Homo sapiens: one gene and its partner. The protein of the gene in region 1 interacts with the protein of each later gene in a biochemical or structural test. Each region holds a gene or a part of one and is shown in the gene's direction. Other genes may lie near its edges. The genes, in order: IL34 and PTPRZ1.

Region 1 (10,521 bases):
ACATACAGGGTATATAGGTATATACTCCTAGGTATATACTCAAGAGAATTGAAAGTGTTGCCTGGGCGTGGTGGCTCACACCTGTAATCCCAGCACGTTGGGAGGCCGAGGCAGGCAGATCACTTGAGGTCAGAAATTTGAGACCAGCCTGGCCAACATGGTGAAATCCTGTCTCTACTAAACATACAAAAAAATCAGCCGGAAGTGGTGGTGCACGCCTGTAATCATAGCTGCTTGGGAGGCTAAGCAGGGGAATCACTTGGACCTGGGAGGCAGAGGTTGCAGTGAGCTGAGATCACACCACTGCACTCCAGCTTGGGCAACAGAGCGAGACTTCATCTCAAAACAACAACAAGAAAATGTTATGCCTACACAAAAACTTGCACATGGATTTTCATAGCCATATTATTCATAATGGCCAAAAGGTGGAAACAGCCCAAAAGTTCACCAACCAAGGGCACTGTATACTTAAAGAAGGTGAGCTTCACTGTCCATCAATTACACCTCAATAAGCCTGACTTTAAAGTAACTTCAATGGATTGAAATACATAAATTAAAAAAATTCTTTCCCTCCCTCTCTCCCTCCCTCCCTTCCTCCCTCCCTCCCTTCCTTCCTTCCTTCCTGCCTTTCTTTCTTTTTTTTTTTACTTTTTGAGATGGAATCTCACTCTGTTGCCAAGGCTGGAGTGCAGTGGCATGATCATGGCCTGTTGCTGCCTCCACCTCCCCAGATTCAAGTGATCTTCCCACCTTAGCCTCCCTAGCAGCTGGGAGTACAGGTGCATGCCTCCTTGTCCGGCTAATTTTTGTATTTTTTGTAGAGACAGGGTTTTGCTGTGTTGCCCAGGCTGGTCTTGAACTCCTGGGCTCAAGCAATCCACCCCCCCGCAACCTCCCAAAGTGTTGGAATTATAGGCATGAGCCACTGCGCCTGGCCAAAATTAATAATTTCAAAATGACACTAAAAATCCTCATTAGTTATTTTGGAGGAAGCCAGAAAACAATACAATCTGAAATGGACAAAGAAAATGTGGGATATTCATGCAAGGGAGCATTATTTGACAATAAAAAGAGTAAAGTACGGATACATGCTGTGTCTTAGTTTACCTGGCCTTCCATAAAAAAATACCATAGACCGGGTGGCTTAAACAACAGAAATCTGTTTTCTCACCATTCTCTGGGCTGGAACTTTGAGATCAGGGCACCAGCATGATTGATTTCCGGTGAGGGCTCTTCCCTTGGGTTGCAGATGGCCACCTTCTCACTATGTACTCACATGACCAGTTCTTTGTGTGAGTATGGGAAGAGACAGAGAGAGAGAGAGACAAAGACAGAGACAGAGAGAGTGAGCGTACTCTGATGTCTTTTTTTTTTTTTTTTTTTTTGAGACGGAGTCTCACTCTGTTACCCAGGCTGGAGTGCAGTGGCATGATCTCGGCTCACTGCAAACTTTGCCCTCTGAGTTCAAGCGATTCTCCTGCCTCAGCCTCCTGAGTAGCTGGGATTACAGGCACCTGCCACTGCGCCCGCCTAATTTTTGTATTTTTAGTGGAGACGGTGTTTCACCATGTTGGTCAGGCTTGTCTTGAACTCCTTACCTTGTGATCCTCCCGCCTTGGGCTCCCAAAGTGCTGGGATTACAGGCGTGAGCCACTGAGCCCGGCCTGATTTCTTTTCTTATAAAGGCATTATCCCACCATAAGGACCCCATCCTTGTGACCTCATCCAAACCTAATTATCTCCCAAGGCCTCATCTCCAGGAACCACCACATTAGGGGTTACAACTTCAACACATGTATTTTGGAGAGACACAAACATTCAGTTCATAACATGCTACAAAATGAATGAACCCTGAAAACATGCTAAGTGAAAGAAGCCAGACATGAAAGGTCCCGTATTGCATAATCAATCCCATTTATATGAAATGTCCAGAATAGGCAAATCCATAGAGACAGAAAGAATATTAGTGGCTGCCAGGGGCTGGGAGGAAGAGGGAATAGGGGGTGACTGCTAATGAGTTCAGAGTTTATTTTGGGGGTGATGAAAATGTTCTGTAATTAAATAATGGTGACTGTTGCACAACTTAGTACACTAAAAACCCACAAAGTTGTACACTTTATTATTTATTTTTATTTATTTTTATTTATTTTTGAGACGGATCTCACTCTGTCACCCAGGCTGGAGTGCAGTGGGACTACCTCGGCTCACTGCAACCTCTGCCTCCCGGGTTCAAGTGATTCTCCTGCCTCAGCCTCCTGAGTAGCTGGGATTACAGGTGCGCACCACCGTGCCTGGCTAATCTTTTGTATGTTTAGTAGAGATAGGGTTTTGCCATATTGGCCAGGCTGGTCTCGAATCCCTGACCTCAGGTGATCCACCTGCCTTGGCCTCCCAAACTGCAGGGATGACAGGAGTGAGCCACTGCACCTGGCTGTTGCACACTTTATTTATTTATTTTGAGACAGGGTCTTGCTTTGTCACCCATGCTGGAGTGCAGTGGCGTGATCATGGTTCACTGCAGCCTTGACCTCCCTGGCTCAAGTGATCCTCCCATCTCAGCCTCCCAAGTAGCTGGGACCACAGGCCCGTGCCACTACACCCACCTAATTAAAAAAATTTTTGTTGGTAGATACGGGTTCTCACTATGTTGCCCGGGCTGGTCTCAAAGCCCTGGGCTGAAGCGATCCCCCGGCCTTGGCCTCCCAAGGTGCTGGGATTACAAGTGTGAGCCATCACACGCAGCCTGTACACTTTAAAATGGTAAATTTTATGGCATGCAAATTATATATTGATTTTTAAAAAGAAAAAAGACTTAAGATGCACATCAGAGATTTAAAAAATAACCAGGGAAAATTGAACGTGGATTCTATATGAAATCATATTAAAGAGTTATTAATTTGAGGGTTGTGTGATGACAATATTGTGATTATATATTTTAAAAATCCCTACATGCTGGTGAAATGGCATGTTTGAGATTTGCTTTAAAATATTCCTGGAAAAAAAAATTGGGGGATGAGTGAAGCTGGAATGACAGAAGAGTGATCATTTTTTTCTTTTGTTTTGAGACAGAATCTCGCTCTGTTGCCCCGACTGGAGGGCAGTGGAGCAATCTTGGCTCACTGCAACCTCCGCCTCCTGGGTTCCAGTGATTCTGCTGCCTCAGCCTCCTGAGTAGCTGGGATTACAGGCATGCACCACCACACCTGGCTAATTTTTGTATTTTTAGTAGAGACAGGGTTTCACCATGTTGGCCAGGCTGGTCTCAAAGTCCTGACCTTTTATGGACAACTCTGTGGAAATAACTTTTTTGTTTTTCTATTGGTATTTGAAGTTGTTTTTTCCCCTTCTCCTTGGAGTTTATTCTGCCTCAACTGATTCACCCGCCTCGGCCTCCCAAAGTGCTGGGATTACAGGTGTGAGACACTGCACCCAGCCAGATTGACAATTTTTGAATCTGAGTAACTGCTATATGGGGGTCTGTTATACTATTCTACCTTGTTTCAGTTTGTTTAGACAACTTCCACTATAAAGGAATGAATTTTTTGGGTAGATGGAAATGTTTTGTATCTTGATTATTATAGTAATTACACAGCTCTATAAATGTGCTAAAAACTTTTAGAAATGTATACTGAAAAGGGTAAAATGTAGTATATGTAAATTAGCCCTCAATAAACCTGAAAAAAATCCCCAAACTAATGACAACTAAATGTTCTAGATACGTTAGTGTTTGTAGTGATGCTGTAACAGCAGGGGAATTGCCAGGGTGAGGAGGAGGAGGAGGGGGAGGAGGAGGGGGAGGGGGAAGAGGAAGAGGAGGAGGGAGGAGGGAGGAAAAGGAGGAGGGAGGAGGGAGGAAAAGGAGGAGGGAGGAGGAATGAAAAGGAGGAAGGGAGGAGGAAGGAGGAAGAGGAAGGAGGGAAGAGGAGGAAGAGGAGGAAGTAGGAAGAGGAAGGAGGTGGAAGAGGAAGGAGGAAGAGGAGGGAGGAGAAGGAGGAGGAAGGAGGAAGAGGAGGAAGGAGGAAGAGGAGGAGGAAGGAGGAAGAGAAAGGGAGTAGGAGGAAGGAGGAAGAAGAGGAAGAGGAGGAAGGAGGAGAAGGAAAAAGGAAGGAGGACGAGGAAGGAGGAAGAGAAGGAAGGAGAAAGGAAGAGGGAAGAGTAGGAAGGAGGAGGGGGAAAGAGGAGGAAGAAGAGGGAGGAAGGAGGAAGACGAGGAAGGAGGAGGAGGAAGAGAAGGAGGAAGAGGAAGGAGGAAAAGGAGGAAGGACAAGGAAAAGAGGAGCAGCAGCAGGCAGCGACTGGGGCTGAGATTCAGGGTGACTGCATAAGGGATTAACTTGAACAACCCGTGTTCTCTCTATAAGGCCCTGCCTGCCTGCTGGGCACCTCTTAGGGTAAGGGCCAGCATTCTTTGGTGACACCATGGATCACACAATGAAGAAGATGCCCAAGTCATACCTGCTCTCCCCCGATGGTGTCACTCTGTAGCCATTTTCCCCCACCAGAGGGGAGACAGGGAGGAGGCGAGGGGATGGAAGAGAACTAAATCAGAGACGGAATTCCAGCCTGATCTGCAGAGCAGACACAATGGTCCAGACCTTGCAGAGTCCAGAGGGGCAGATGGGAGGACCACGCACACACGCTGAGCCCTGTGTGGTTGTCGAATTTTGGGAGCAGCCACCAGCCCACAGGGTTTGAATTCCTGTCACACTTCTTACAAGCCGTATGACCTTGGACAAGTGTCTTAACCTTTCTGGGCCTCAGTTTCCTCATTGATAAACTGAGATTTTGCACTTCCATGAGATTGTTGTGAGAGATTCAGTGAATGTAAAGACCTTAGTCCTGGCCGGGTGCGGTGGCTCACGCCTGTAATCCCAGCACTTTGGGAGGCCAAGACAGCAGATCACTTGAGTCCAGGAGTTTGAGACTAGCCTGGCCAACATGGTGAAACCCCATCTCTACTAAAAATACAAAAATTAGCCAGGCATGGTAGTGCACATCTGTAATCCCAGCTACTTGGGAGGCTGAAGCAGGAGAATTGCTTGAACCCTGGAGGTGGAGGCTGCAGTGAGCCAAAATCACGCCACTGCACTACAGCCTGGATGACAGAGTCTGAGACTCCGTCTCAAAAAAATTTTTTTTTTCTTAATTTTTTTTTTATTAATAGAACTGAGGTCTTACTATGCTGACCAGGCTGGTCTCGAACTCCTGGGCTCACGCAATCCTCCCACCTTGGCCTCCCAAAGTGCTGGGATTACAAGCATGAGCCATTGCGTCCGGCTTGTTTTCGGAGTGGGAGCTCGTCTGCTTTTTTAACCTGTCCTTTAGCCTGAGTCATTCATGGACTCTACCATGGCTCTCGATGTGTGAACTCAAACCACCTGTTCATTCCTTGGTCCTGCTTTTGTTCAGGCCCCAGGCTGCCAGCTGGTGTCATCATAACTCACTCATGGGCCAGGGCCGTTCGGACATCCTGAAGTCATTTCTCACGTGAGCCGTGTCCAGCTGCCAGGGCCGGGTGGTCCTGTGCAGGCCGTGGGTGCGGTGTGCGCTGTGGCTGATGGCTGAGTGGCAGCGCTGCTCTTACATAATCAGTTTCTCTCCTCCTTTCTCTTCCTAGAGCCAGATTTCACACTGAGCAGCTGCAGTCGGAGAAATCAGAGAAAGCGTCACCCAGCCCCAGATTCCGAGGGGCCTGCCAGGGACTCTCTCCTCCTGCTCCTTGGAAAGGAAGACCCCGAAAGACCCCCAAGCCACCGGCTCAGACCTGCTTCTGGGCTGCCATGGGACTTGCGGCCACCGCCCCCCGGCTGTCCTCCACGCTGCCGGGCAGATAAGGGCAGCTGCTGCCCTTGGGGCACCTGCTCACTCCCGCAGCCCAGCCACTCCTCCAGGGCCAGCCCTTCCCTGACTGAGTGACCACCTCTGCTGCCCCGAGGCCATGTAGGCCGTGCTTAGGCCTCTGTGGACACACTGCTGGGGACGGCGCCTGAGCTCTCAGGGGGACGAGGAACACCACCATGCCCCGGGGCTTCACCTGGCTGCGCTGTGAGTACTGGGGGGTCCCTAGGGACCTGCATTGGGAGGCCTTGGCCTAGATCCAGGATCTGCCGTAACCATAGCAACCAGGGCATTCTTGCTGGTGAGAAGTTGCGATGCTTCCCAGCCGGACTGCAGACACCCTCTGAGATTCCCACGGCCGCCGTCTGCCCTGTCTGCCGCTCACTTCGGGCTCCGACGGGCAAGCTGGGTGGGCAGTTCTGGCTGGGTGGGCATGGTCCTCAGGGTGGTCTTAGGTCGGGGCAGGCACTGGGGGTAGGTGGCAGCATCTCACCTTTCCAGGCTTGTGGGTGTTGGGGAGCCCCGGGCGGGCAGCAGCGGCCCAGTCCTGGGTATGGCCGGTGGAGGGGGGCAGGGGCTGGTGAAAGTGTCTAGGGACCCAAGACCCACGGCAGAAGAGCAGCCAGATGCCTGGAGAAGGCAGCCTGTTCCCCTCCAACCCTCCCTCCATAACAGAACAGAATTAAAAAGCAGAAAGATAACACTGTTGGTAAAAAGAAAAATAAGTTGAAATGAGGACAGAAAGGAAAAAAAGGATCTGGAAGCCTCTTATGCCTGCTGGCTGGGAGGCCAGACCAAGATCCCCTCAGTCTCCAAGATCCAGTTCAATTGACTCAAATTCAACACATTTTTCCGGTGCCTCCCACGTGCCCACTGCAGAGTCACTGCCATGACAACAAGGACCTTGCTGTCTCGTGCCTCTGTCTCCAACGCCTGGCACAGGGTTGAGTGCTCAGGAACTGTTGGAGGTTTGGGGTATGAGCCTGCGAGGGATTGAAAGAAGAGTTGGGTCCACCCTGGCCCTTGTGGAAATATACAACAAAGGGTTGGGACATTAAGGATGGGTGGAAGGACCCAGCTGGACCCAATGTTCTGGAAACCCCTAGGTCATGAGAAGCAGGGGTGCAGCATGGGGGAGGGGCTACTGGAAATGGTCTAGAAGGTGGGGTGGTGGTCACACAGGTAGACCTGGGGTCATGAGGCCCATGTTCCAGGAAGAGGGGCCAGTGTGAGCAAAGGTTTGGCGGTGGGATGGTGAGGCCAGGCTGGGAGCTGGTTTGGACCCGGCTGGCTGAGGCCTTGAGAGCCAAGCAAAGTGTGCCTCCCTCCCCATAGCAGGCAGCCCTGGAGGATTTGAGAGCCCGGCGGGGGTGGAATCGTGATTGGGAGTTCCTCTGCTCTTGAAGATCAGTCTGGTGGTGTTTGTAGGAGTTACTGCTGTCACCGTCTGTGCAGGAGGGAATGAGGGTCATTCTGGAGGTGGAGGTGCGAATGAAAGGCAAGGGATGCTGGGCTGGTGGCTCACGCCCGTGATCCCAGCACTGTGGGAGGCCAAGGCAGGAGGACGGCTTGAGGCCAGGAGTTTGAAACCAGGCTGGGCAGCATAGCGAGACTCCATCTCTAAAAAAAGGAAAATTAGCCAGGTGTGGTGGCATACATCTGTAATCCCAGCTACTCAGGAGGCTGAGGTGGGAGGATCACTTGAGCCCAGGAGGTTGAGGCTGCAGTAGCAAGGATCGCATCACTGCACTGCAGCCTGGGCAACAGGGTGAGACCCTGTCTTTAAAAAAAAAAAAAAAAAAAAAAAGGAGAAAAGAAAAAGAGAGAAAGAAAAGCAAGGGAGAGGGGAAAAAGCTCCAGGAGGGGTGGGTCTTAGGACCAGGCAAAGACTGGCTGGGGGATGAGGGAGAGGGAGAGCAGCAGATTGAGGTGGGGGCTGGTGCCCAGGGGCTGGGGTGCTGAGGAAGTTGGGCTGCCATAACCAATTAGAAAGCTTCGGGTGGCTTAGAGCAACAGGAATGTGTCGTCTCACAGTTCTGGAGACCGGAAGTGTGAGATCAGGGTGCCTGCAGGGCTGCGTTCCCTCTAAAGGTGCCGAGAAGGAGCCTCCCTTGCCTCTTCCAGCTCCTGGTGGCTCCTGGCTTCCTTGGCTTGTGGCCTAGTCACTCAGATCTCCCTTTGTCTTTGCGTGGCCTTTCCCTTTGTGTGTCTCTATGTCCTCTCCTCTTCTTCCTAGGACACTAGTCACTGGATTTAGGGAACTGCCTAAATCCAGGATGGCCTAATCTTGACATCCTTCATTTAATAATGCCTGTAAGTGGCACAGGACAGGCGAGCCCCCAAGGGGGCTTAGCCTGCGAGGGTTCTTGGCTTTCCCTAGGAGAGAATTCAAGGCAAGCTGGTGGTAGAAGAAAACAGCTTTACTGAAGAGATGTTATAGCTCTGTGCCAGCTCCTGCAGAGCAGGGCTGTGCCAGAGGAAGCGTACTGAGGAGCAGCTCGGGGCCTTTTGCAGTCATATTTATACCCACCTTTAATTGCATGCAGATTAAGGGGCAGTTTATGCAGACATTTCTAGGGAAGGGGTAGTAACTTTTGGGACATTGGGTCATTGCTATGGAAAGCGGTGGTAACTCCCAGGCGTTGCCATGGCAATGGTAAACTGACATGGCACACTGCTGAGCATGTCTTTTGGAATGCTGCTTCTGCCCCGTCCACCCCTGTTTTCACTAGTCCTCAGTTTGGTCCAGTGTCAGGGCTCTGCCTCTGGAGTCGGTCCTACCTCCTACTTCACAAAGACCCCATTTCCAAACAAGGTCACACTCGGGTTCGGGTGAATGTGGATTTGGAGGAGATGCTATTTAACCCACTGCACAGGTTCAGATTTGGTCCCCGGGGCTGGGGGTGACAAGCCTCACTTGTCACTGCACATAGGGTCAACCCAGGGCCAGGGAACCAGGAAGGGAGTACCGTACTCACACAGATCTTTCTTAAGCCTCCTCTCTGTCTTGCAGGTTGTTTTATTATTTTATTTTTATTTTTATTTTTTGAGACGGAGTCTCACTCTGTCACCCAGGCTGGAGTGCTGCGGCACGATCTCAGCTCACTGCATCCTCTGCCTCTTGGGTTCAGATGATTCTTGTGTCTCAGCCTCCCGAGTAGCTGGGACTACAGGCACCTGCCACTGCGCCTGGCTAATTTTTGTATTTTTAGTAGCGATGGGGTTTCACCATGTTGGCCAGACTGGTCTTGAACTCCTGACCTCAGGTGATCCGCCCACCTCGGCCTTCCAAAGTGCTGGGATTACAGGTGTGAGCCTCCGTGCCCAGCCTGTGTTGTGGGTTCTTACCTCTGGGCTAAGACAAGGGCAGGGTGGGTCTCCTGACCAAGGTCAGGGGTGGCACTGGCTGTGGGGTTCCTGGTGTGCAGAGCATGTGGGGGACAGTGGCCTTGAGGTTGGGGCTGTGCTGTCCCTGCCTGGTCCCTGTTTGTTAACCTGTTTCTCTGGGTGGGTGGAGGCAGCAAAAAAAGAAACTTGCCCTTAGCAATGATGTTTGGGCTGCACTCAGAGGAAGGCTGCCCAGTTGGGGGAGAGGCAGATCATCTGTGGACAGGGTTTCCAGGGCAGCTGTGTGCCCACCGTGTCAGGCTGGGAGGCTCAGTGTCACTCCAAGGCACAGTCCCTGCCTTGAGGCCACAGCTGCCGGGTCCCCAGGGCCCCAGAACGGGACACAGAGAAGGGCAGGTGCTGTAGGGTTGGGAGGTGAAGTAGACGGCCAATGGTGATGGCCACACAGGAAAAAAGACCCAGTGTGGACAGAGGTACTGATTTTTTTAAAGAAAAGCTGAAATTTTGAATTGTTGTGTGAAATCCTTGTGGACCAGAGGTGGCTCTCGGGACACCAGCTTGCAACTGTTGCTCTAGGTCTGTGGTTCCAGACCCCCAGCCACAGCTTTACCTGGGACCTTGTTAGAAAGGTAGACTCTCTGCATCCTAGACTGGTTGAGCAGAGACTCTGGGGCAGGCAGGACAACCTGTGCCTTAACGAGCTCTGCAAGGGATGACAATGTCTGCTCCCATTTCTACTGCTTGAGGCGAATCCCCAAATGCACATGTGAAGTTCTCAGCACGCTGGGCTGTGCAGTGTTTAACTGCGTTATGGATTCACACACAGGCTCACGCCTGTAATCCCAGCACTTTGGGAAGCCGAGGTGAGTGGATCACGAGGTCAGGAGTTCAAGACCAGCCTGGCCAACCTGGTGAAACGCCGTCTCTACTAAAAATACAAAAAAAATTAGCCGGATGTGGTGGCGCGCACCTGTAATCCCAGGTCATGAGTGAATGGGGAAGGTGGTGCTGGAGACAGAGACCGATGGGGGCTGATGCAGAAAGGGGAGACCCTGGCGTGGTGATGGGGGGGAGAGAAGAGTCTCTGGGAGGCTTTGAAAGAGGTCTGTGTTGTGAGAGGGTACCTAGCGCAGGGCAAAGCATGAGCCCAGGAGGCAGGGATGATCTTGACCTGCAAGAGTAGATGCTAAGCTGAGGGGTTCAGGACTTAGGACAGAAAGTAAGCAGATGTTAAAGGGCCAAACACTGGTTCAGTTCATGTTTATCTGTTCTTCTCACCCAATACTGTATCAGGCACAGGGGAAGAGGGAGAGAGGAAGTGCAAGATAGATTGCA
Region 2 (10,085 bases), on another chromosome or scaffold:
ATATAAGCAAAGAGAAAGAAATGTAATATTATTGTGGAAGTCAATAGACATTGTTAGATCATATAGAGAAAATGGATGACATATCTTTGGGGAACTTTTGCTGTGAAGGAGAGACGAGAAGTAGAATGATAACTAGAAGGTGAATTAGAGGTTTTCCTTTGTGTTTCCTTTAAATAAGAGAGATCAGAGTTGATTTAAGCTGATGAGAATTATCTGTTTGAGAATTTGAGAAAACAAATCAGAAACACAAAATAGACTGAACTACTCAATTATGTTCAATTCCCAGGTTCATGATAGGGACTAGATCTAAAACACAGAAGTGCGAATTAGCTTTAGAAAGGAAGGAAAACAACTCTTTAGTTATAACAGGACAGGAGGGGCAGAGATAACTTGGTTGGTCCCTGTTTTTATGTTAAGAAGAAGTGTGTCTTTGGTGGCTTCTATTTTCCCTGAAAACAGGAAGGCCATCTGCTGAGAATGGGAGGAAAGGATAGGAAAATGAAGGTTTGACAGAGTTTTGGTAGAGAGAAGGAGTGTGGAGTGATACCAGAAAACTAGGCAAATATTTAGGTTTGCAAAAACAAGGAAGAGTTTAGAAACTCCACACTGCCAAGCTTAACATTGATCCCCAGCAAAACTCTGCATCACATTATAAAACAAATATTTATGAGAACTTCTAAGGAAAGAAGAGATAATTGGCACCAACCAATTTTCCCTAAAAGCAAGTCAAGGCAAATTATTCTCATTTCCTTTTGCATTAAGTTTTTAGGTTTGTAGATTATAGGAATATTTTATTTAGGAAATTATTTGGGAAAATCTCTCAGGTGGTCCTTGTGAACAAGGTATCACACAGAATGTAAAACTTCATAAAGAATACTGACTACTTGTAAGGAAATTTTTCAAGGGAATCTGAGAGAGTAGCCATTTTTAGCACTCAATATAATTCAGATCAAGTGCACTAACTTCCTAAAGTTGTCACTTATGCTTCAGAAGATACTCACGACCAGCCAAATAATTAAGCTGTAAATAATGAGGCAGCCATTAAGCTTGGAATCGTGTGTTTCATACAGTGCAGATTTCCGTGTGTATGACACATGCTCATGAGCACACACAGCTTAAGATTCAGATTCTTTCTACTGATACTGGTCAAGTTCTCAATGGCTGTACTCAGTAATTTTTTTCTTTTAAGGAACATGGCCTTAAAATATCTAATAGATGATCAAATAAATGACAATTCTAACAAGCTGTTGGGTACAAAGATACTGACAAAATCATGTCCCACATGAACTAAAAAAAAAAAAAAAACTTGATAACTTTGGCAATTGAGTTTTCTAAGTATATAATTAGATATAATATACCCAGTTTTATGTATATATACGTATATGTATATATATACATATATTGAATCTTCCATGCAATGAAGATTATGCTTAAAGCATAGGTCTTGGTTAACTTCTAGCTAGAAGACTAGACGTCTCCTCCTGGGTCATTGCATGGAAGATTCAGCCTCCTGAATGGTGATTCTAAGGGAAACACAAAATTAAAAAACTAGGAGTAGAATCATATATTGACAAGTTGCCTTTGAAATATCTGCCTAAGTCTTAAGTGGAAAATATTAAAAAACAAAAGGAAAAGAAAACCAAACACCTCTTTTAGTTCTAAATCTTCCCCTTATTATGACCTTAAAATTATGATTTGCTCTAAATAGATATAATTAAATATTCTGAATGTTCAACTACTTTGGTCTTTAAAATAGTTTCATCGCCAATTCTTATTACAATAAGCTAATGGCTATTTACCTTGATGCCTGATGAACAAAGAAATATAAAAACAATAAAATAAATGCCATGTTAAATAACACTGTCAATAAATAACTACAGTGTGTCTTCCTTTTAAATATGTGGTATCTATTCATTTAACCACTTCTTTCCATAGCATTAAAATAAAGGCGGCCATAAATTAGGTGTTTTCATTACGTTTAATTACTCCCCTGTAGAGCGGATGGTAAAGGTTGTAGGTTAGAGGTATGCATTGTACAGAATGGTGTTTTATGAGGATGAGAAGTTCCCAAGATACCACAAGTGATGATTGGCAGTGTAAGATATGAAGATTTTCTTTTTCTCTTATTTCCTTATGACTCATTAAATCTTGTTTGCTTTTCAAAGGAGGAGGAAGAGGGAAAAGACATTGAAGAAGGCGCTATTGTGAATCCTGGTAGAGACAGTGCTACAAACCAAATCAGGAAAAAGGAACCCCAGATTTCTACCACAACACACTACAATCGCATAGGGACGAAATACAATGAAGCCAAGACTAACCGATCCCCAACAAGAGGAAGTGAATTCTCTGGAAAGGGTGATGTTCCCAATACATCTTTAAATTCCACTTCCCAACCAGTCACTAAATTAGCCACAGAAAAAGATATTTCCTTGACTTCTCAGACTGTGACTGAACTGCCACCTCACACTGTGGAAGGTACTTCAGCCTCTTTAAATGATGGCTCTAAAACTGTTCTTAGATCTCCACATATGAACTTGTCGGGGACTGCAGAATCCTTAAATACAGTTTCTATAACAGAATATGAGGAGGAGAGTTTATTGACCAGTTTCAAGCTTGATACTGGAGCTGAAGATTCTTCAGGCTCCAGTCCCGCAACTTCTGCTATCCCATTCATCTCTGAGAACATATCCCAAGGGTATATATTTTCCTCCGAAAACCCAGAGACAATAACATATGATGTCCTTATACCAGAATCTGCTAGAAATGCTTCCGAAGATTCAACTTCATCAGGTTCAGAAGAATCACTAAAGGATCCTTCTATGGAGGGAAATGTGTGGTTTCCTAGCTCTACAGACATAACAGCACAGCCCGATGTTGGATCAGGCAGAGAGAGCTTTCTCCAGACTAATTACACTGAGATACGTGTTGATGAATCTGAGAAGACAACCAAGTCCTTTTCTGCAGGCCCAGTGATGTCACAGGGTCCCTCAGTTACAGATCTGGAAATGCCACATTATTCTACCTTTGCCTACTTCCCAACTGAGGTAACACCTCATGCTTTTACCCCATCCTCCAGACAACAGGATTTGGTCTCCACGGTCAACGTGGTATACTCGCAGACAACCCAACCGGTATACAATGGTGAGACACCTCTTCAACCTTCCTACAGTAGTGAAGTCTTTCCTCTAGTCACCCCTTTGTTGCTTGACAATCAGATCCTCAACACTACCCCTGCTGCTTCAAGTAGTGATTCGGCCTTGCATGCTACGCCTGTATTTCCCAGTGTCGATGTGTCATTTGAATCCATCCTGTCTTCCTATGATGGTGCACCTTTGCTTCCATTTTCCTCTGCTTCCTTCAGTAGTGAATTGTTTCGCCATCTGCATACAGTTTCTCAAATCCTTCCACAAGTTACTTCAGCTACCGAGAGTGATAAGGTGCCCTTGCATGCTTCTCTGCCAGTGGCTGGGGGTGATTTGCTATTAGAGCCCAGCCTTGCTCAGTATTCTGATGTGCTGTCCACTACTCATGCTGCTTCAGAGACGCTGGAATTTGGTAGTGAATCTGGTGTTCTTTATAAAACGCTTATGTTTTCTCAAGTTGAACCACCCAGCAGTGATGCCATGATGCATGCACGTTCTTCAGGGCCTGAACCTTCTTATGCCTTGTCTGATAATGAGGGCTCCCAACACATCTTCACTGTTTCTTACAGTTCTGCAATACCTGTGCATGATTCTGTGGGTGTAACTTATCAGGGTTCCTTATTTAGCGGCCCTAGCCATATACCAATACCTAAGTCTTCGTTAATAACCCCAACTGCATCATTACTGCAGCCTACTCATGCCCTCTCTGGTGATGGGGAATGGTCTGGAGCCTCTTCTGATAGTGAATTTCTTTTACCTGACACAGATGGGCTGACAGCCCTTAACATTTCTTCACCTGTTTCTGTAGCTGAATTTACATATACAACATCTGTGTTTGGTGATGATAATAAGGCGCTTTCTAAAAGTGAAATAATATATGGAAATGAGACTGAACTGCAAATTCCTTCTTTCAATGAGATGGTTTACCCTTCTGAAAGCACAGTCATGCCCAACATGTATGATAATGTAAATAAGTTGAATGCGTCTTTACAAGAAACCTCTGTTTCCATTTCTAGCACCAAGGGCATGTTTCCAGGGTCCCTTGCTCATACCACCACTAAGGTTTTTGATCATGAGATTAGTCAAGTTCCAGAAAATAACTTTTCAGTTCAACCTACACATACTGTCTCTCAAGCATCTGGTGACACTTCGCTTAAACCTGTGCTTAGTGCAAACTCAGAGCCAGCATCCTCTGACCCTGCTTCTAGTGAAATGTTATCTCCTTCAACTCAGCTCTTATTTTATGAGACCTCAGCTTCTTTTAGTACTGAAGTATTGCTACAACCTTCCTTTCAGGCTTCTGATGTTGACACCTTGCTTAAAACTGTTCTTCCAGCTGTGCCCAGTGATCCAATATTGGTTGAAACCCCCAAAGTTGATAAAATTAGTTCTACAATGTTGCATCTCATTGTATCAAATTCTGCTTCAAGTGAAAACATGCTGCACTCTACATCTGTACCAGTTTTTGATGTGTCGCCTACTTCTCATATGCACTCTGCTTCACTTCAAGGTTTGACCATTTCCTATGCAAGTGAGAAATATGAACCAGTTTTGTTAAAAAGTGAAAGTTCCCACCAAGTGGTACCTTCTTTGTACAGTAATGATGAGTTGTTCCAAACGGCCAATTTGGAGATTAACCAGGCCCATCCCCCAAAAGGAAGGCATGTATTTGCTACACCTGTTTTATCAATTGATGAACCATTAAATACACTAATAAATAAGCTTATACATTCCGATGAAATTTTAACCTCCACCAAAAGTTCTGTTACTGGTAAGGTATTTGCTGGTATTCCAACAGTTGCTTCTGATACATTTGTATCTACTGATCATTCTGTTCCTATAGGAAATGGGCATGTTGCCATTACAGCTGTTTCTCCCCACAGAGATGGTTCTGTAACCTCAACAAAGTTGCTGTTTCCTTCTAAGGCAACTTCTGAGCTGAGTCATAGTGCCAAATCTGATGCCGGTTTAGTGGGTGGTGGTGAAGATGGTGACACTGATGATGATGGTGATGATGATGATGATGACAGAGGTAGTGATGGCTTATCCATTCATAAGTGTATGTCATGCTCATCCTATAGAGAATCACAGGAAAAGGTAATGAATGATTCAGACACCCACGAAAACAGTCTTATGGATCAGAATAATCCAATCTCATACTCACTATCTGAGAATTCTGAAGAAGATAATAGAGTCACAAGTGTATCCTCAGACAGTCAAACTGGTATGGACAGAAGTCCTGGTAAATCACCATCAGCAAATGGGCTATCCCAAAAGCACAATGATGGAAAAGAGGAAAATGACATTCAGACTGGTAGTGCTCTGCTTCCTCTCAGCCCTGAATCTAAAGCATGGGCAGTTCTGACAAGTGATGAAGAAAGTGGATCAGGGCAAGGTACCTCAGATAGCCTTAATGAGAATGAGACTTCCACAGATTTCAGTTTTGCAGACACTAATGAAAAAGATGCTGATGGGATCCTGGCAGCAGGTGACTCAGAAATAACTCCTGGATTCCCACAGTCCCCAACATCATCTGTTACTAGCGAGAACTCAGAAGTGTTCCACGTTTCAGAGGCAGGTTAGTTACGGATCAGAAGGACAGATTGAGGTGTGGTGGTTTGCTTGCTCTAAAAGTAAAATGAAAATTATAGAAAGATAGAAATTTGGTAAAATGGTACATCATCATTTTTAAAATCAAAACATTCAACAAATCAGTCTCCAGTTTCTGAAGTATAATTTTATTTATTATTTCAAACAATTATTTAACACATTTTGGTTTTTAATTTAATTCTCTCCAAAATAGACAAAACAATTTTTATTTATTGTCAATATTTCATACTCTACAGGATGTCTTTTATGGGTGGGGGCAATTCTGTTTGCATAATACATTTTTAGTACACTGCTTTTAAAGCAAGATCAGAGTATGCTATTTTAGATGATTTTAATTTTCATACTTTTGTTCTAAAATAAGTTGTAAACTAATTCTATTTAATTATAAAATGAATTATTAAATCTGAGAGTAATGTGACATAAGCACTTCTCTCTGACACACCCCTGTAGAAAGGAATTAGTTAATTTCCACATTCATATCAGCTTGGGGAGCTTTATTTATTATTATTATTTAATTAATTAATTAATTAATTTTGAGACGGAGTCTCGCTCTGTCGCCCAGGCTGGAGTGCAGTGGTGCAATCTCGGCTTACTACAAGCTCCGCCTCCCAGGTTCACGCCATTCTCCTGCCTCAGCCTCCCGAGTAGCTGAGACTACAGGCGCCCACCACCACGCCAGGCTAATTTTGTGTATTTTTAGTAAAGACGGGGTTTCACCATGTTAGCCAGGATGGTCTTGATCTCCTGACCTCGTGATCCACCCGCCTCGGCCTCCCAAAATGTTGGGATTACAGGCGTGAGCCACTGCACCAGGCCAGGGAGGTATTTATGTATTTATTTATTTATTTAGTTTTATTACTAAGTTTTGAGAGTTAATAATGAAGTTAAAAAAAATTTTAATTTTTTTGTCTTTCTTTATCTTAATGTTGCCTAAAGAGGGCAGTGTAAACCATCAAAATACATTTTACTTTATGCCTGCTGTTACACACTTTTTTAAGTTAAATAATGGGCATTAATATGTACAGTATGTATAGGTATTGTATCACAAGATGTAAAACACTAAACATTTTTCTGTAGAAATGAATTTCATTTGTGAATGTATTTTATGCAAATTAGCTTACTGACCAGATGTTTCTTAGAGCAGATTATGTGCAGTGTTTATAATACAGATGTCTGCTTTAAATGCCAATGGAAAGAAGAGGGAAGTTCAATCCTATTAAGTATAGAAAAGTAATACTTTCATTGAATTGGTCATAAGAATTTTATAATTTGCTTTTATTAAATGTGAACGTATCTTAAAGTTTAATAATGAAACTATTTAAATCTTAACATCAAGTTAAATGATAGGCTAATGTAACAAAATGCACTCATTGTATAAAAGTGAATATTTGTAATCCAGAACATAGACATCAGTCTCATTAGAATATTTTTCCTCTTTGCGATTTCATCTTTTTAATTAGTTGTATATTTTTTCTTCAGTGCAGCAGCAATTAAAAGTTTGTACATTTTGATAGAAAACTTTTTCTGTATTCTGAATTGATACCTATTTAACATTGCATTTTAAACACTTAAATGCTGATATGTGAGAATGAATAATGAATCCATAGGTCACTATAGTCATTAGTGCTGTCATATATATGAACTGTTATCTGTTCTCAATTATAGTAGCTGCTTTTTAGTTTTCATTAGATTTATGTTAAAAGAAAATATCAGGAATCCATCTATCTGTCTTACCAGGTAGTGACATTGATACGTTCTTGCTAGACTATGCTATTATAGAAGGATATATATAATGAGATGCTAAACCTAAAATTATTGACTAAAGCTTAGCAAATTTCTCTTCAGTGCACTAATTAGTTTTATTTAATTATCAAGAGTGTGTTCTCCCACTAATTAGGATAAAACAATATGAATATGACATCCAACATTATCAAGTAACATAATTAGTGAAGTAAATAAGATCAAACAAGATTAGGGGAAAATTCTGGCCTATTTTTAAAACTGTATCTATAAAATCATATGTAATCTGTCTTATCCAATAATTGAATATATCCCTTTATCAAATGCATGCAGACTAGCTCTGAAACTTAAGATTTTATGGTGTATTTCTAGAATGCAGAACAATTTACAGGATGTGTTCTTTAAAATACTATAGATAAGGCAAATATTAGTATCCACAATTTATAAATGAGTACACTGACACCCAAAGATACTAGATTATTTGATCCAGGTCACATGAGTAAATACAAAACTGAGCCTGGAAATGTCTATCTCTTAAAGATTATGCTTTCATGTTAGGGGCCAATTAAATAAATGTAATGCTTAAATTGTAATACCAAAATTATACTATCTTATTCTCAAAACATCTTTTAAAATGTTAATCTTAGTTTTTTATTTCTTAATTACCTATTAATTAAATATTTTAATTTAGGTAACTCATATATACTACTGAGCCATCTCAAGGAGATATTTTAGTCTCAAATAAATAAAAATAAAATCAGTAAAATTAATTCCTCATTATAGTACACAAAGCAACCAACTGATTGTCTGTGCTTTCATAAGATATCCTATTTTGTGTAAAAGAGCTAGGTTTCATGCCATAGTTTGATCATTCTGACTCCTTAATTAAAGGATTTAAGATCAAATATCCCAGAGCACTTTTGAGAAAAGTTTATACACAAGACTATATGTGTGTGCATGTGTGTATACAGTGTCTGTATATAAATATGTGTATATGGTATATTTACATATATAATGCATTATATATCTTACATATATGACATATATGATAGGACATATCTCATATATATGTATGCTATACATATATAAATGAAATATGTAATTATATATATATATACCCATATACATGTTGCTTTGAAAATTTGTGGCTATTGAAGACCTGCATAATTATATAAGCTTACTTCGTACATATATTAATCTACATCACTGGTTCTCAAACTTTAACATAGATCAAAATCAACTGGAGGACTCGTCAAAACACAAATTGCTGACCCTTACACACAGAGTTTCTGGTTCAGAAGATTTTGTATGGTTTGAGCGAAGCCTAAAATTTGCATTTCTAAGTTATGATGATGTTGATGCTGCTATTCTGGGGATCAAACGTCAAGAAAATCTGATATAGATAATAATATTAACCACCATTTGTACTAAATGAGGTACCAAGGACTTTGCTAAGTGAATGTTTTCATTTATTACTGACACACTTACTTTCCATCTAGGTAACAATAGTTACAATAGAAAAAACTGTGAAGACAACCATGTATAAAATAAGATGTTTTTCTAAATTTTATAAGGAAATGCTCATTGCATTCACCATCAGGTTATTTAGGTGACTAGATGATTCTAAATGAGTCTCCACAAAATAATGGCCAGAGCTTAGGATTAACATTTTAAAAAATGGAGTCTTGGGCTTTTCTCACAAGAATATTAGCTACAACTCAGGGCTGAGTTGGCTTAGAACATTTTCACTTTTTATACAGTTTTATGATTTTTAATCACACCTTTGAATTCCATTTTTCCTAGTAAATGCATTTATAGTTATAAGACCAAACATCTTGGGAAGTGTGTGTGCCATTTATATTCCTGTGATACATTACATTTATTTATTTATTTATTTATTTATTTATTTATTTATTTTGAGATAGAGTCTCACTCTGTTGCCCAGGCTGTAGTGCAGTGGCGTGATCTCAGCTCACTGCAACCTCTACTTCCCGGGTTCAGGCCATTCTCCTGACTCAGCTTCCCAAGTAGCTGGGATTACAAGTGTGCACCACCACGCCTGGCTAATTTTTGTATTTTTTATTTTTTTTAGTAGAGATGGGGTTTCACCATGTTGGCCAGGCTGGTCTTGAACTCCTGACCTCAAGTGATCCGCCTGCCTCAGCCTCTCAAAGTGCTGGGATTACAGGCATGAGCCACCACGCCCAGCCTGATACATTCCCTTTATTAATGGATTAAATTCCTGTCCCTTTCTGCTATCACCCTTGATCAACAGAAGAAAGCTATTATTTTAAATCTTAAGTTCTCTCCAATTAGATATATTTTAATGCTATATATGTGCACTTATATTAGTCTCAATTTTCTTAAATACATATTTAAGTTAAGTGAAGTTTCTCTGTCTCCTATTACTTAAGCATCAGAAGTGCCAAGTGCATAAGAAGGCATGTAGATTTTGATGGGAAACTCAAATGTGGTTCTTTCAGAATGTCTGCAGGTAGATATAAGGGCTTTTTGTAGCACTGTCAGCATGCTGTAATGTTAGAAACCGTTCTCATGCTCAGTCATCTTGGTTTCCCACTGAACACACCTCAA

What was found.
Region 2: the proteins of IL34 (region 1) and PTPRZ1 form a complex in vitro, tested with the Homo sapiens proteins (one study listed by BioGRID).

The regions. Positions count from the first base shown.
Region 1 is NC_000016.10:70,640,931-70,651,451, forward strand, and holds the start of IL34 (interleukin-34 isoform 1 precursor), read left to right. Parts: upstream 1-5,628; 5' UTR 5,629-6,017; coding exon 6,018-6,045; intron 6,046-10,521. UniProt on the Homo sapiens protein: Cytokine that promotes the proliferation, survival and differentiation of monocytes and macrophages. Promotes the release of pro-inflammatory chemokines, and thereby plays an important role in innate immunity and in inflammatory processes.
Region 2 is NC_000007.14:122,008,169-122,018,253, forward strand, and holds part of PTPRZ1 (receptor-type tyrosine-protein phosphatase zeta isoform 1 precursor), read left to right. Parts: intron 1-2,165; coding exon 2,166-5,721; intron 5,722-10,085. UniProt on the Homo sapiens protein: Protein tyrosine phosphatase that negatively regulates oligodendrocyte precursor proliferation in the embryonic spinal cord. Required for normal differentiation of the precursor cells into mature, fully myelinating oligodendrocytes.